2 separate regions of the Homo sapiens genome follow, and region 1 is linked to region 2. A link means that fine-mapping ties the variant in region 2 to the expression of a gene that starts in the linked region. Tissue or cell type: skeletal muscle. Region 2 holds a variant in brackets; the other region holds the start of a gene. All regions are shown on one strand. Distances are from middle to middle.

Region 1 (8,186 bases), 57 kb before region 2:
TGGTTGAATTTCACAACCTGAAAGAACTTCACAAACTCTAAAACAACATAACAATGTGACCCAAATAAGTGTCAGAGTTGCTGGTGTGAAGAGTCAGTTTAAGGACTCCTGACACTGGGCCTGGGCTGCCTTCATCCTGTTACTTTGTCTATGGGACAGTTAATGTATTCTTCTGCTGTCATGTCACATGGCTTAGGTGGGGGAAGCTGGTATAGATGTGCCTTGAGTGGAAATATTTTTCTTATAGGGTAGATCTTATTTTAAGTATTTAGAGGCATTTGTTATTTAGCAGAGCTCTGCAGTCAAACTTTTACATAGCAAAGAAACACTCGAAACACTCTCTAAATTGTCTGCCAACTTAATTTATTTTCCACTATAGCAATATAAAACTGGATTGGGTTTTTTTATTACCAACAGACTTGGTTATCTCACTCATACAAGTAAGCTGAAGCTAAACAGACCGACTGTTCCTATTCTCCTCTGCCACTTATGATCTCAGGCAACTCTCTTACCTCTCTCATTTTTTATCTTTTTAAATAAAATTGGGTTTAGGACTATCTGCTTGTCTACACCCTCAGCAATGCTGGGGAGATCAAGTGGGAAAATGTATGTGAAAACAGTCTGTAATAATAACAATTATGACAACAGGAATAATAGCTAACACTCATTCAGCATTTATTATGTGTCAGGCACAGCTTTGCATAAATTAACTCATTTAATTCTTACAAAAATACTAAGATGCAGGTATTGTTATTATTCCCATTTTACAGACAGAAAACGAAGGCACAGAGGCTAAGTAACTCACACAAGTCACAAAGCTAGTAAGTAAAGAAGCTGGAATAAATGACCATGTGCTACCTATACCCTGAGGACAGTGATAATAAACCTTTTGCTTACAGAGACTACAAAAGATAAAATAAGTATCACAGGAAAATTAAATAATCATCATTTTATAGATGAGGCAATTGAGGTTCAGCAAGGTTTCACAGTTTGCCTAATTATATTTTCAGAGTATCTAAATTTAGAATATATTTAAACTATGTCTGAAGTGCTCTGTTTTCAAATTAAGGACAGTAGAGCAAATCTTTTGAAAACAGATTCAATGGTCAATTTTAAATTCTAGTGGCCTAACCAGCTATTATACTGGGAAATTATAGATTAAATATGCCTGGACATTCATAAGAATAAGGGCTTAAGAAATATTAGCTACTATCCCTATAAATGTCCCAATGCCTAGATCAGAGTCCCAAAGCACATCAAGAGTTCTAGACAAGATAGTACAGTTCTTTTTGAAAGGGTGAATGAGCAATTATAGTCTCTGGATTTGGAGAGTAATAAAAAAGTGGAGTCTCAAGTGTGAACTTTTTGTTTTCATTTTCCCTAAATGACCTATTTTTTTAAAAACTCTATAAATTCACATCCTAATCAAGATAAAATTTTCAGAAATAGATTTTAATTCATTCCTTTTCACTGAATGCACAGTGGTACTTAATAATACCAAAAATCCAGTTAGAAAGGAGAAGGTAAGTTTAACCCACCTACTAATGAAACAACACCTTTAAAAAGAAGGCATAATCCCTGTGGGCCAGCTGTGTGCCAGGCACTCACAGGCCAGCAAGTGCAAACAGCAAGGCTTGACTCTGAGTGAAACGGAACCGGGTCAAATCTGGCTCTTCCTCTACTAGCTGGGTGGCCTCAGGCAAAGTTACTTCATTTCTTTGACTCTATCAGGAGCCTCTGAACACACAGCTGACCTTCTAGCATGGAATCACTGGAATCCAGGCCAACTGCTGTCCCCTATGGGGTTTGGTGGGATTTATCATCTTGTTTCAAGGCCTACTTCACAAGACCCCAGAGATACTTTTTGGAGTCTTTCAAGATCAGACTGGCCAATCTACATGGCTATAAGAGACACATCATGGGAATTTAGTAGATTAAAAAGGGCCCTATTTGGCATTGAACCAAATGAGTATCAAGAGTCTAGCTGAGCCAAGATTCCCTTAATAACAAATGTATATGATATCCTATCAGAACAGTGCAGGTCTTCTCTATCTCATTGAACACCCACAACCTTCTCAAAGCTAGGCCCACTAACCTCCACTACCTGCTCTCTCCGGGGACACACCAGAGTTGAACACTAAGGACGGAGAGATGCATTCTTATCTGTGGACAGACAGGCTGTGATTTGAAAGTACTATAAGGTACACCTGGCTGACTGGAGTCTGGGTGGGCAGTTGAGGTTGTATTTCACATGAACTCATAACCCACATGGCTCCCTATGCAGCTTAAACCATGAAACATGGAGCACGTGCATGTTCCAACCATTTCCTACAGTGGCCTAGCTTTCACCCAATTCACTGTGCCTGCTGTCCAATCTATAATTCAGCTAACAGGGCCTTTGGGCTTAAGGCTGCTAAAGACAGGTTACCACTGAGCATTAGAGCTCTGGGAAAAACAAGCTCCTCTACTGAGATGTTGAATGTAACACCACCGCAGTATCTGTAGAATGAACTTCCCAAGACTTCAGATTTCTTATTTATACAGACTTCTGTGACTACAGCCTCCACTGCAACTTCAGTCTACAAAACATGGCTAACGAAGTGCTTTCGAGCTTGGGAGTTAAATTGCTCCTGAGAGTATGTCAGGAGCAAAGCTGAAAATGGTGATAACTTGGGGACAAAATATATATGTAATATTGGGATCACAATTTATTAGGAATTAATAAGCACTTGTATATCATATCCTTCTTGCCTAGCATTTATATAGGCTTAAAAAAATGGTAGCTAGTGTGATAATAATCCTTGCAGATCTCCTAGAGAACAGGCATGATCACCTTCAGCTAGCACTGTTGGTTGCTCACCTGTCATCTATTGGGAGAAAGCATTCTCCCTGTTTACAAGTAAGGAAACCAAAACAAGGAGGTTAGAGAACTTACCTAAGATTGCCTACTACATGCAGAGTAAAGTAAGGATCCAGATGGAGGCAGTTCAACTCTGGAATTTGGGCTATTAATCACTGTACCCTTCCATCTCTTCTGTTTATGTGAGGAGACTGAAATCTACAGACATAGAACTTCTCTGCTGTCATGCTGTTACCTGGATTGTACACAGAAGTCCAAATTACAGCTACATCCCCGTTTAAACAGTAAGCCGTTTCTAAATCTGAATCCTGAGGACTTTCGAGCAGCCAGAAGGGTTTTCAGACATTATGACATGCAGCAAGAAAGTACACAGAGAGAATTTTTTTAGATGAAAAGCCCCATCCAACAGTGGCTGATAACATTTTCTGTTCTCTGATAACCCCCTTGCTACTAGAGCAGCTGAAGATGACTCCAAATGCATGAATCTGTTCATCTGTTCACATGCTAAAAGAAAAAGGCCTGGCAGTTCATGATTAAAGAGGCACGAAAGTCCCCAGATCACAAATGCCCTTTCAAAAATTTTCCACATTTGTTCTAGTTTCAAGCCATGATAAAGAGTTTCCAATCAAATGCATCAGCTAAAATGAATCCATTTTCTGAAACAGAAGTGGCTAGTTTGGGTCCAGCACTTATAACGAAAGGTTCCTGGTGTCACAGACCATGAAATAAGACTGTTTGAAGTTGTTCCCATGGAGAATCCCAGAGGACTTTAAAACTTCTGAGCAGGAAGATCCTTGACCCTTGCCCAACTCCTTTCCACTTAACAGCGATGCAACTGAGCTGAAGAGACTTGTCCAAAGCCACTGAGCAGGTTAGTTAGTGGCAGGGCTAAAATCTGTAATGAGGGGTTGGTCATGCGCAGGTTGCAAACAGCCTTGTCCAAGGATTCACACTTGGAGTAGATACATTGCACCCTCACTTTTGACTAGGCCTAACTTCTGGTACAAACCTGTGGAGTCAAAATCTGATTTTAAATATTGTAAAAAACAAAAACAAACAACCTCTCATTTTTCAGATCTCTCAATGAAAACTTTAGGGCCAAATCAAGAAATCATAAGGCTATCATAGGCCCTTACATAAAAATGGCCTTAAAATATACACACAACCTCCTTTTCATAGAAGACAGAGAGCCAGAGAGATAGAAATACAGAAAGAGAGGGAGAAAGAATACTTTGCCCCTGACATATACACACAAAAGTACTTGGCTTACTGTAAGCAAAAAGCAAAAAAAAAAAAAAAAAAAAACAAAACAAAAACCCTCAAACTCCTTTGTCTTAAGGGCAGAGAGAAAGGTGACAAAATTTGAAATAAAGTGAGCCACTGAAGACAGGAATGGGCAAACTCCAGCTAGCCTGGAACTATCCCGGTTTCCTCTGTGAACCAGCCTAGGGGCTTCCCCTCGGTCCGCCCCTGCACGGAAGGACGTGCGTGACACTGGGCTGCGTCATTGGCAGAACTGCCCGCGCCCAGAAAACGAGCTGGAGTGGAGAACAGAATGCAATTGCAGACAATCTTCCTCTGGTTCCCTGGGGAGGCCTGCTCTGGGCAGAGAGATCCCAGGGGACTGTGCGGGAAGGAGCTAAAGCAATAGCCCAAAAGCGCCAGGGAATGCACTTGAAGTTTCAGACGTTTTTCTTTTCTTTGAAACTAAGTTTCCAGCCCACCAGGAAAAACTGCCTCGCGACCTAGTGATTTTAATCTCACGCTTGGCCGCAAGCCGCTGCCTCGAGACTGGAAACCGGCCGCGAGGCGCTCTATCCCCCTGACCCCCTCCCCCCGCGCTCACCTGCGATATCCCAGAGCTGCAGGCGCACCACAGTCTCCGGGTCCCAGTGGAGCACCTTGAGCGCGAAGTCCACGCCGATTGTGGCCCGGTAGTGCGAAGAGAAGTTCTGGTGCACGTAGCGCTTGATGATACTGGTCTTCCCCACGCCCAGGTCGCCAATCACCAGCAACTTGTACAGGTGCTCCTTGTGCGGGGCCTGCATCCTGGCGGCCGGCCAGACGTGCCGTGCCTGACCAGGGAAGCGCAGCCTGGGCTCTGCGCACGAGAGAGACTTGGGGAGCGCAAGTGTAGGTGCAGAGAGAGGCGTGGGCGGCGGGGCGGGGGCTGGGGGGCGGAACTCCTCCCCTAGGGGTTAATCCTCCTTCCTACTCCGCGGTCTTGGAGAGGGGAGGAGACAGGAGCGAGTCCCGGGACTGGCAGCTGAAAGGGGTTCGCGTGTGGTTGCCTGTTGCAGCGCTTATTTATCCGGCGCTTTAGAGTTTCCGAAGAGCTGTTTTCACCTGTGACCCTGGCCACAAACTTGTGAGGTGTGGATCTTATTTTCCACGTTTTGCTTGCGAGAAAACTGATTGTGAAAAAGTACTCTGCGGGAGATGGCCGGTGAAAGGCCCCGTTGACCACAGGTCTGAAGTCACAGGCTCTTAACTACCCCACACTGTAGAGAGAAATTACAGTATTAGGAAGCCCAAGACTGGCTGGGCTTGGTTCCTGCGTGCCCTGGTTTTTAAGTTGAGGGACCATAAGTAAGTCATTTGAGCTCTCACAGCCTGTTATTTCTCAATGAATGGCAATGCTGACCTCTGAGCAGCTTGGAGGTGGGAACACTGAGCACTTTCACACCCATTCAACTGGTAATCAGTTAACAAGGAGGACAACTGGGCCGAAAATGCCAAGGGCACTGGTGACTTTTAGCCTCTTCCCATATCCTAAAAACTCAGAGCTGCACAGAAAGACAGTTTTAACAATCGGTCAGATTATTACAAATAATAATAATGGCAAACATTTATTGAGCACTCGCTATATGCCAGAGGGTTTATAAATTATGTCATTTAGTCATCCCAGCTGTCTTAATAATAGATACCATTTTTCTTCCTATTTTACAAATGAGGAAGCTAAGGACCAGACATTTTAAGTAATGGACCCAGAGTCAAATAGTAAGGAAAAAAACCAAATTCAAACATAGGTCTTTAGGTTCCCAACTTCTTTTTGTTGTTTTTGTTGTTTGTTTTCATTCATTTGACCAATATACATTTTATTACCAATTAATATATGACAAATTGTACTTATTTTGTCTTGTCTGTCTCCACCTACAAGAAGGTAAATTTTTTTGAGGCCAGTAGGCATTGTCTGCGTTAGGATTTCTGTATCATCCTCCTAACGCAGACAATGCCTACTGGCCTAAGAAAAATTTACCTTCTTGTGGGTGGAGACAGGACAAGACAAAATAAATACAATTTGTCATATATTAATTGGTAATAAAATAAGGCAGAAAGGGGATGTGAAGAGATTATATGGGGTTTGCCTTTTAGATAGGGTGGCCAGGGAAGGTTTCAGTAAGATGGAGACAATTTAGTAAAGACATAAAGAAAATGAGAAATTGGGCATTCAGGGCTAGGGGGTGAGCAGTTTATACCAAAATGAGCTATTTTGTACCTGAATGTGCTGTGAAGGAGCTCTGCTCACATTCTATCATTTCATCTTCTCAATTGCTTTATGAAGTGGGTTATTTTCTTCAATTTATAAATAAGGAAACCAAGATTAACAGCAGCTTTCTCAAGGGCACACATAACTAGTATGTGTTAGAACTAGGACTTAAACACAGGCCTGTGTGAAAGGGAGAAAGGAGGTTTGGCAAGGCCATTGTCTTTCTGCCTTCCTCTTCTGGCCTGACACTCCCTAAACTTTAGCCTCCACATGCCCCAAACAAGCAGAGGGATGCTGAAGATGTGTACCCGGGACAAGTCACATAACCTCTGAGCCTTGGTTTCCACATCAACGAAAGGAGAATGATAATACCTATGGCAGGGCATGGTTGCTCATGATTGTAATCCAAGCACTTTGGGAGGCTGAGGTGGGTGAATCACTTGAGGTCAGGAGTTCAAGACCAGCCTGGCCAACATGGTGAAACCCGTCTCTACTAAAAATACAAAAATTAGCCGGGCGTGGTGGCAGGTGACTATAATCCCAGCTACTTGAGAGGCTGAGACAGGAGACTATCTTGAACCAGGGATGCAGAGGTTGCAGTGAGCCAAGATCACACCATTGCTCTCCAGCCTGGGTAACCTGAGCAAGACTCTATCTCTAAATAAATAAATAAATAAATAAATAAATAAATACAAATGAAATTGTTGATAAAATGCTGGGTCCATAGTAGGTGGTAAATAAATTGTAGCTATTACTATGAAATGAGGGACAAGCTTAAAATACTGTCCACAGGCACTGTCCTGTGCAGTTTCATCTTTCCTCAGAGAGTAACTCAGAAGTTTTGCTCAGAATGGACACTAAGTGACAGTGTGTAGAATTGCAGTCGTTTGTGTTTTATTGAAGTGCTTAGCTGGGTAGGCCTCATTTACTGGTTTCCACCCATGCGAGGACACACCAAGAAGATCACATCTAACAAGTGAGACAAATACTCTACCTGCTTAAAGAATTAGCCAACAATGTCACCTCACTTCCCAGGGAGGGGAATTCAGTAGCCCAAGATGCTTAAGCCATTCTAAATGCCTGCAAAATTAGGGAGGATGACAAAATGAGACCTTTGCCAGCTCTAAAATCCTGGGTCTGTAAATCTGAGAGACAGGCTTTGTCTGGCCAACAAGCTCCTGGGGTAGAAACAAGGTAGGAGTTTGAGACATCTTGTGGGCCAGCCTTCAAAATTATACCCAACCCAACTTTCTTACCAGCCCCGTACTGTTTTCCCAAGCCTGGTCCCGGCAGAGTCATCCTCACCCTTATCTGTTCTCTTTTGAGCAAGAGCATATTGGAACATCAGACATTTGGATTTATGAGGTAGGACAGGCAGGGCAAAGTTCAGGATTTCTGGTCCTGAAGCTGATAAAATTGGAGGAAGTAGCTTTTTGAGCAAAAGAATGCAAAATCAAAAATATATAATTAGGTCTAGGGCCTTGGAAGGGGTCCTGAAGCTTCAGTTTTATTGCCTCTCTGGGGGTAGGAGATTCCTCTCTCAGGGACAGCAGCCAACCATGGTGAGCAAGTTCCTTGGCCAGGCAGGAAGTATGTGCAGTTTTGTTTCCAGCCGTACTCATTTAGGTCTCATGATCATTCTTCACAGTGGGAAGAAATTACTCTCGGTTTATATTTTTAAGACTTTTAGATTACAGTAGCTTGGTAAGCACCCCAGCCTAGCAGTTCAGTAAAATCTTCGTAAAAGGCGCCTAGGTCTCTGAACCTGAAAGTCCCTTGGGTAAAATGAGGGAGTTAGGTTGCAAGATCTCTGGAAAGTCCTTTGGACTCTAAAAT
Region 2 (8,186 bases):
AAGTTATTAACTTGTGATCTTTCTACTTTTTTGATGTAGGCTTTTAATGCTATAAACTTTCCTCTTAGCACTGCTTTTGCTGTATCCCACAGGTTTTGGTATGTTGTGTTTCCATTTTCATTTACTTCAAAAAATTTTTAAATTTCCAACTATACCTCTTCATTGACACAGTGATCATTCAGGCATGCCGTTTAATTTCCATGTACGTGTATATTTACCAGACTGCGTTGGCATTGATTTCTGACTTTATTCCAGTGTAATCTGAGTAAGTACTTGATATGATTTTGATTTTTTACAATCTGTTAATACTTATTTTTGGCCTAATATTTGGTCTATCTTAGAGAATATTCCATGCGATTGTGAAAATAATGCATATTCTCTATTTATTAGGTAGAATGTTTTATAAATGTCTATTAAGTCAATTTGTTCTGAAGTCCAATTTAAGGCCAATGTTTCTTTGTTAAGTTTCTACCTCAATGATCTGTCTAGTGCTGTTAGTGGGATATTAAAACTCTCTACTGTTATTGCATTGCTGTCTGTCTCTTTCTTTTGGTCTAGTAATATTTGTTTGGTAAATATAGGTGCTCCAATGTTGTATGCATATATACTTAGGATCGTTATATCCTCTTGCTGAATTGATCCCTTTATCATTACATAATGGCCTCCTTCATCTTCTTTCTTTACTGTTTTTGATTTAAAGTCTGCTTTATCTGATATAAGCATAGCTACTCCTACTCACTTTTGGTTGGTTTGTGTAGAATATCTTTTTTCACCCCTTTACTTTCCGTCTAATTCAGTAAGGTGAATTTCTTGTACCATATAGTTTTCATCCCTTTACTTTCAGTCTAATTCAGCAAGGTGAATTTCTTGTACCATATAGTTGGATTGTGGGCTTTTTGTCTATTCTGCCAATCTTTATCTTTTAAGTGCAGCATTTTATTCATTTACATTCAAGGTTAATATTGATATGTGAGGCTTTGTTTCTGGCTTATTATTGATTGATTTCAAGTTGTTTTAAACAATTCTTTTTTTTTCTTTTTGTCTTTGTGGTTTAATGAAATTCTGTGGTATCTTTGACATCTTTCTATTCCTCTTTTGTGTGATTGTTTTATACAAACTGTAAGTTGTATATTGCCATGTGTTTTCATGGTGGTGAATATTAACCTTTCATTTCTTGCTTAAGGACTCTTTGAGCATTTACTATAGGTCTAGTCTAGAGTCTAGTAGTGGCAAGTTTTCTCAGTTCTTTCTTGTCTGAGAATGACTTAAATTATCCTTCATTTATAAAGCTTATTCTGGCAGGATACAAAATCATTGGCTGGAAGTTTTTCTTTCAGTATTTTGAAAGTGCCATCTCATTCTCTTCTGGCCTGTAATACTTTTGCTGAAGAGTCCACAGTTAGTTTGATGGGATTTCCTTTATAGTTGACTTGATATTTTTCTCTTGCTAATTTTAAAACTCTTTATTTCACTTGGACTTTAGACATTCTGAGTATAATATGCCATGGTGAGGTCCTTTGTGCAATGTATTTTCCTTGGGGTTGCTGTGTCCCCTGTATCTAGATGCCTAACTTTCTTGATAGATGAGAAATTTTCATTATTTTCTTAAATATGTTTTCTAAACTTTTTGATCCCTCTTCACTTTTGGCAATACCAATAATTAGTAAATTTGGTCACTTTATCTGGTCCCAGATGTCTGAAAGCTTTGTTCATTCATTTTTTATTCTGTTTCTCTTATTTTTGTCTGACAGGATTATTTTGAAAGTCTTGTCTTCAAGTTCTGAGATGCTTCTTCTTGGTCTAGTCTATTATTGAAACTTTTGGATATATTTTTTATTTCTTTCAATGAATTTTTTAATTCCAGAATTTCTATTCTATTTGTTTTTATGATGTTCATCTCCTTGGTAAATTTCTCATTAATATCCTGGATTGATTTTCTGATTTCTTTGTATTGATTTTCAGGTTTATCTTGCATCTCATTGAGATTCTTTAAGATCAGTATTTTGAATTCTTTATCTGAACTTTTAAAGAGGAATTATTTTTGATTGGGATCTGTTATTGGATAATTTTGGTCCTTTGATGGTATCATATTTCCCTGATTTTTCATGTTTCCTGTGTCCCTCCATTGATTTTGGTGCATCTTGTATAGCAGTCACTTTTTCCAAGTTTTTGAAATTGCTTTCATAGGGGAGAATTTTTTCCTGAGGATGTGTATATGTTGTTGATTCAGTTAAGATACTGTGGCTTTGATTTTGGGTGCTCATGGTAGTGTGATCTTTGTATGAATATTTTGGCAGTACACAGGGCAGTGGTCTCTGTGATTTCCTCAGTGACTAAGGGTACAGCTAATAGTTGAGTTTGTGGTGGAATTAAGCTAGTGACCTGGACACCAACTAAATCAGTCTTCAGGCTCTGGTGGTAGTAGCAGTGGGGTCCTTTCAGGCCCCAGAGCAACTTACACTGGCTCTAGTGTTTGTGAGTCTGGGAGGACTGATTCTTGAGCCTTCACGTGGCTTGCTTAGAAATTAATAGTAAGAGCAGTGGTCCCAGTGTGTGGGTGGGTTCTTAGGACCCTTGGTAGCTAATGTGGTATGGGTGATGGTAGTAGCAATGGTGGTGCAACCCACTGGGACCCAAGCAACGCATGTTGTTGTTGCTGGAAGCTGTGATGGGTTGGGTGGGCTAGTCTCCAGTCCCACAGCCACCTGTAGCAGGGCAGTAAGCATTGTCCTAACTGTGCTTAGGAGAGCTTTGTCTCACTTATCCCTTTCCCAGCTGGGTGGCAGCTGCAACTATGTCACCTCAAACTTGGCCCAAGGTTGGGGCACAGCCCAGTATTAAGTTCTCAGAATGGCACTCTGGGCCTGTGACCAGGGAGTGTAAGGTCCCTTCAGGCAAGAAGCATGGGCAAGAAGCTATGGGAAAAGCAGTTTACTTGAGTCTTGGTCTTACAGCAGCCCGTAGTAGGGTACTGGGTATTGACCTAGATGTGCATTGGGAAGCCTGGCTTTCCTATACCTCTTTAACTGGGCATTAGCTGAAGCCATGTCAAGTCAAACTCATCTCAAGGGCAGGGGACAACCAAGCATTAAACTCTCAAAATGGCACCTTGAGTCTATAGTCAGGGAGGGTGGGTCTCCTCCCATGCAGGCAGTGTGGGCATGAAGCTGTGGAGAATACAGTCCACTTGTGTCTCAATCTCACAGCAGCCTGTTGCAGGGAAGTAAATATTGTCTTAGATATACATAGGATACCTTTGTCTTCTTGTTCCTCCTTGGCCAGATGGCAGCTACAACCACATCAGCCTGAACTCAGGCCTAAGGTGACATATGGCTCAGCCTTAAACTCTCAAAATGGCACTCACCCTGGGCCTGGGACCCAGGGTGGGCAGAGTACCTTCCAGTCTAGCAGTATGGGCAAGAAGCTATGGGGAATATGGTCCACTTACATCTCAGTCTCACAGCAGCCCACAGCAGGGCAGCAAGCACCCTCCTAGGGGTGCATGGGAGTGCCCAGCCTCTTCTTTCTCTTGTTGGAGCAGTGCAGTAGCCCCAGCCATGTTTGTAGATCTCCAGTATCTAGGCTCTCAAGATAGCTCCCAGCTGAGGCTGCTCCAAGCTCAGGTGCCTGTGAAATTTTGCATGGGTTCTCTTTCTGGAGAAACATCTCTTTGCAATCTTTAGCCAGCTCTGTATGTCAAGCCCAAGGCCCTAACGAGTTAAGGGTTTCTTTGGTGGCCATGATAGTAAAAGCTGATTTTGGAACCCCGGGGGTTTCTCTTTTACTATTTCCCCATGTCCAGGAGGCTCTCCTAACTTTTAGCTGGTTCCTGGCTGGGCAAGCTGTCTTGCTCTCTCTTTACCTATTTCGGGTGCTTCTTGTCACTGCTCTGGGGAATCCTAGCATTGTGCCCTATATGATCTGTTTAAAATGTGAGTATCTGCCAACTATTCTGATATCTACTTACTATCCTGGTTCCTCTCCTAGGAGGAGGCACATATTACCTATGTCTAGCTGGCCATCTTTATATGATGCACAGTGAGTTTCATGGATATGCACCCAGAGCAGGTCCCCATCTACCAGCCAGTTGTCACTATTTTTAACTGTCACTTTAATTTCCCTAGAATCTAATAATGCTGCCCTCACTTTTATTCCTGTGTTTTGTGCTAACATTTAATCTTCATAACCACCTTATATAATAGGTATTATTTTCCATTTTTATAGAAAAGCAAACAAATCACAAAGAGCTAAGAAGCTGCCCAAGTTTACTTGGATATTGAGCACAAAGTCAGGACTCAGAGCAAGGTCTGTAGCCTCAAAAGCCTCTATTCTATACAACCATGCCATACTCACTTAGAAC[C/T]GTAATATGGAGCAAAGCCACTAGGTGGAACCCCATAAAATCTGCGCTTGCCACAGGCCCAACATTAATCACTTTAGTCCATCGGATGCTGATGCTGGAAAGGATGAAGCAAATCAGTGATCCTACCCCTTCATTCTCACAGAGGAGAAATCTGAGAACTAGCTAAGGAAGAGAATTGCCTAGGTCACACATTGATTTAGTAACATGCCCCAAATCAGCACCCAGAGTGTGTATTGCCGTAGGTCTTTGCATTTGCCACAGTTATTGTTTTTCTTCCATGGTTATAAACAGAAAAGATGTACAGCTTACATAAAATCAGGAGAAATATCTGATCCATCTTTTCTATGGCAAGACAAAGCAGGGTTGGAAAACGTTAATTAGCTTGTGAACACACACTCTCAGCCAGAGGAAGTGTGCTTCATAGTCAAGGCTCACAACAGTGTGCATTAGAATAAAAGTATCTATGTTTCCTCTTCTAGATCATCAAAGGGTTTTTACATCACTTGCCTACTGCAACTAAATGCCAGGGCTTGGGCATACTGAGGGGAAAAGGCTGTCTAGTTTTTCTGCTCACAAATGTTGTGGTCGGAGGCAAGTTTTCTGCTCACTGCTTCCACGGAGTAAAATGGTACCATCTGCTGTGCCTAATGGGCACAATCAGAGTGCGGAGTTATGGGGTCTTGAGATGAGATGATTGTAAGAAAAAAACTGATTATGACAGACGATCATTGATAGCTTTGCTGTCCCTTCAGTTCTATCATAACCCCTTTTACACAATGACAACCTGCTACCATGCCACTGTCCTAGAAGGGAATCTCACAATTGCATGCAGCAATCTCAAAAATAGAAATGATACAACAAATAAGGATGGTTATATTGTTGAAAATAACGCTGTTCAAAAATTGTTTAAAACAGTTAGCTTTTTCTATGCTATCTCATTCCTCCCAGCTAGATTTACCTTTAAAAGAACACTAAATGAGACTTTATCCTCACAGCTGAAAAAATCTGGTCTTCTGATAGAAAGCTTTTGTGTCAGTTAATATATTTATACAAAAGGTAGAGTAGCTAGAAATAGAGGTGCTCCATATATAAAGATTAATTAAACTTCTAGAATTTTCATTGCTAAATTTGTAAATTCAAAATAAAAACATAAATCACTTTTATAAAAAAAAGGGAAAGAAATGTCTTACAACCTTTACAGAAAAGGATATAAGAATTAACTTACTATTTATTGCAACCAAATCTGTGAGTTGGGTAATATTATTCCAATGTTTCAGAAAAAAAAGTTAAGAACAACAAAAAATAAATTGTACAACGGGTAAATGTCAGAGCTGGAATTCTGTATTTGATCTTTTTTGGCTCCAAAGCCTGTCATTCGAACCACTACACACTTAGGGTCACTATTAGGCCCTGTATTCTACCTCTTTTTCATTTTTAAAGAAATAACTGGCAAAAATTTCTCATAGTGGCGTATTATATAGAATTGTTTTCTTTTACCTTTAATTTTCTAACAACAGACATAAAAACAAAACAGGAGAAAAATACACAATATTGTTGCTAAAACAGTGAATGCTGTAGAACAAAATGATAGGTGATATGTGTGTGTATATATCCTTCTTTCTCTTCTTTTCCATATGTAGTTACATTATTTTAAAACTTAAAGAAGAGTATTAAGGAGACGGGACAGAAGTTAATATAAAAATACTTAAGAATTCTGAAAAAGCCGGCAACTTTTCTTTCTACCTTGTGATAAGTCTGAGATGACACCCTTTGACACCGTTTTCCTCCTCCCTATCCATTCTCAGTATCTAGAGCCCTGACATCACACACACACACACACACACACACACACACACACACACACACAATATTGCCACATTTCCTACTTTCTCTTTGATAATACCCATTCAAACTGAGCTTTGCACCTCTAGAATTGGTTCTCCTGGTTCCTGGAGTCCCTCCTGCTGTGAGATTTGCTCTGACTCTGGACTATCCCTGCCTGCTTACTACCTACCCTCCTTTTCTTACACTTTTCTCACCAATAATTAAGGAACACATGCATTTTTCTAAACAAACCAAAATATGCTGTAGCTCTGTGCCTTAGTACAAGCTTCCCCTCAGAAAAATCCTTTCCACTTAGTTACCTCAAACTACTTACCTTTTAGGTATGTCCTCCATCCTGGGGCCTTCCCTACATTACACTCTCACTCCCCAGTGGTTGCTTGTTCCATCCTTAAGTCTGTGTACTCTTTTCCTGCCCCTCCTTTAGATTTGCCATTTTATAATACAAATATTTGTTCATATTTATCTATTCCTTTGGTCTATGAGATCCTTAAAAGCAGAGATCTGGTCTTGTTTGACTTTATAACTTCATATCCTAGCATAGTACCTTCATAAAGTAGCTATTCAATAGTAGTAATAATAATGTCAATGATGATGATGACAACGACGATGAAGAATGGATGGATGGATGGATGGATAGATTAATGGATCAACAATGAAACAGATCAATAAATGAAACGATATACATAAGCAGTAGGTGAGATGTTTGAAATTCCACCAACAAAAAACCGACTATGAGGCCTGGTATAGTTTGTGTGCAAATCCTCTGTCTTGTCTTCTTGGCTGTGAAATCTGTCTGGGGTGGCTACTCCAACAGTGTCTCCAGCCCTGCTTTCTACTAAAGTACAAGCCTGTTAGAAGTTGCTCCATGCATAGAAAGACCTCACAATGTCGGATCCTGGATTCTGCTTCTCAATCTGCCTTAAATTAGGCTGTAACCTTGGCCAAGTTGCTGTAATTTTCCTAAGAAAATTCTGTTTCTTCATCTAAAATGGGAATAGTAACCCATGCCCACATTTCCACCCCATGTGAGGTATTATGAAGGTGTGATACATGACAGGCTTGCAAACAATAAAGTGTGATGCAAATTTAAGGGCTATTACTAAATGTCGTTTCTCTTCTTATGTATACGGTCCTGAATTTACTCTCAGGTGAATTTTTTTTTTTCATGTCAGCTATAACATACTGATTTCTAACTCCTGGTAATTCCATAGGATTTGCTGGTGAGGAGGCAGAGTATACTGTGCTAAGAACGTGGACATTTGATTTAGATTTTCATATAAATCTTAGCTTCATTATTTATTAGCTACACGATTTTGAAAGTTTATACAACATTTTTGCTCCTTAATTTCCTCATCTCCAAAACAGGAATATTAATGCATTTCTTACTGGTTCAACATAAAAACTAAATATGATAATCTAATGTTACAGTATATATAAGCTCCTTGTACATACATAGTAGGTACTTTGTAGAGTGGAGTACTGAATAGAGAGGAGATGTCTAAGGACTGCACAAACTCAAATTCTGATGGTAAAGACTGTTTCCAGTTGACTGAGGTTAAAAATAATATAAAATGACAAACTTTAACTCTTCCCAGAAAATTAACTAGAATTAACTTAAGAAATCCAGGAAGAGTCAGTCCTATTCTTGAAATTTGAGATCAGCCATTGCTTCCAAATATTCATGTATCACAGCCATAATCTTTGTTAATATTAAGTATTATCCAGACTATTACTTTTTTAAATGATTAAAGTTAGATGTTGTTTAGCAATATCCTCCATAAAATCACAGGTCTGATATGCTGGTTAAATTTATTCTGATATATATGAGAATAAATATTTTGCCTAAAACACATAATAATACAGAACCACCACCAAAAGTAAGAAAATAGAAAAAAAGTTGTATGCTACCTAAATGGTTTAGAGAATTCTTCATTGCAAGCTTCTTTCTACAAATGTTTATGCCCTTAAATCTTGCTCACAA

Alleles and levels. Alleles are on the strand shown, and positions count from the first base shown. SD is a standard deviation of normalised expression in the study named.
In carriers of allele T in region 2, the expression in skeletal muscle of the gene that starts at base 4,967 in region 1 tends to be lower than with C alone (moderate effect, 0.68 SD a copy in FUSION).

Evidence for each region. PIP is the estimated chance that this variant, and not a neighbour inherited with it, causes the effect.
Region 1: it holds the start of RAB38, and the variant in region 2 is fine-mapped to the expression of RAB38 in skeletal muscle (FUSION, PIP 0.95).

Annotation. Positions count from the first base shown.
Region 1 is chr11:88,170,477-88,178,662 of GRCh38, forward strand. It overlaps RAB38 (RAB38, member RAS oncogene family), which reads right to left and starts at 4,967. Exons shown (of 3, transcript NM_022337.3): 1 at 4,707-4,967. The coding sequence starts at 4,908. MIR3166 (microRNA 3166) reads left to right here and starts at 6,026; the gene lies at 6,026-6,117.
Region 2 is chr11:88,227,693-88,235,878 of GRCh38, forward strand. No RefSeq gene overlaps it. Among named protein-coding and RNA genes, the nearest start is that of MIR3166, 55 kb to the left of the region's middle. The variant C/T (reference allele first, on the strand shown) is at 4,361.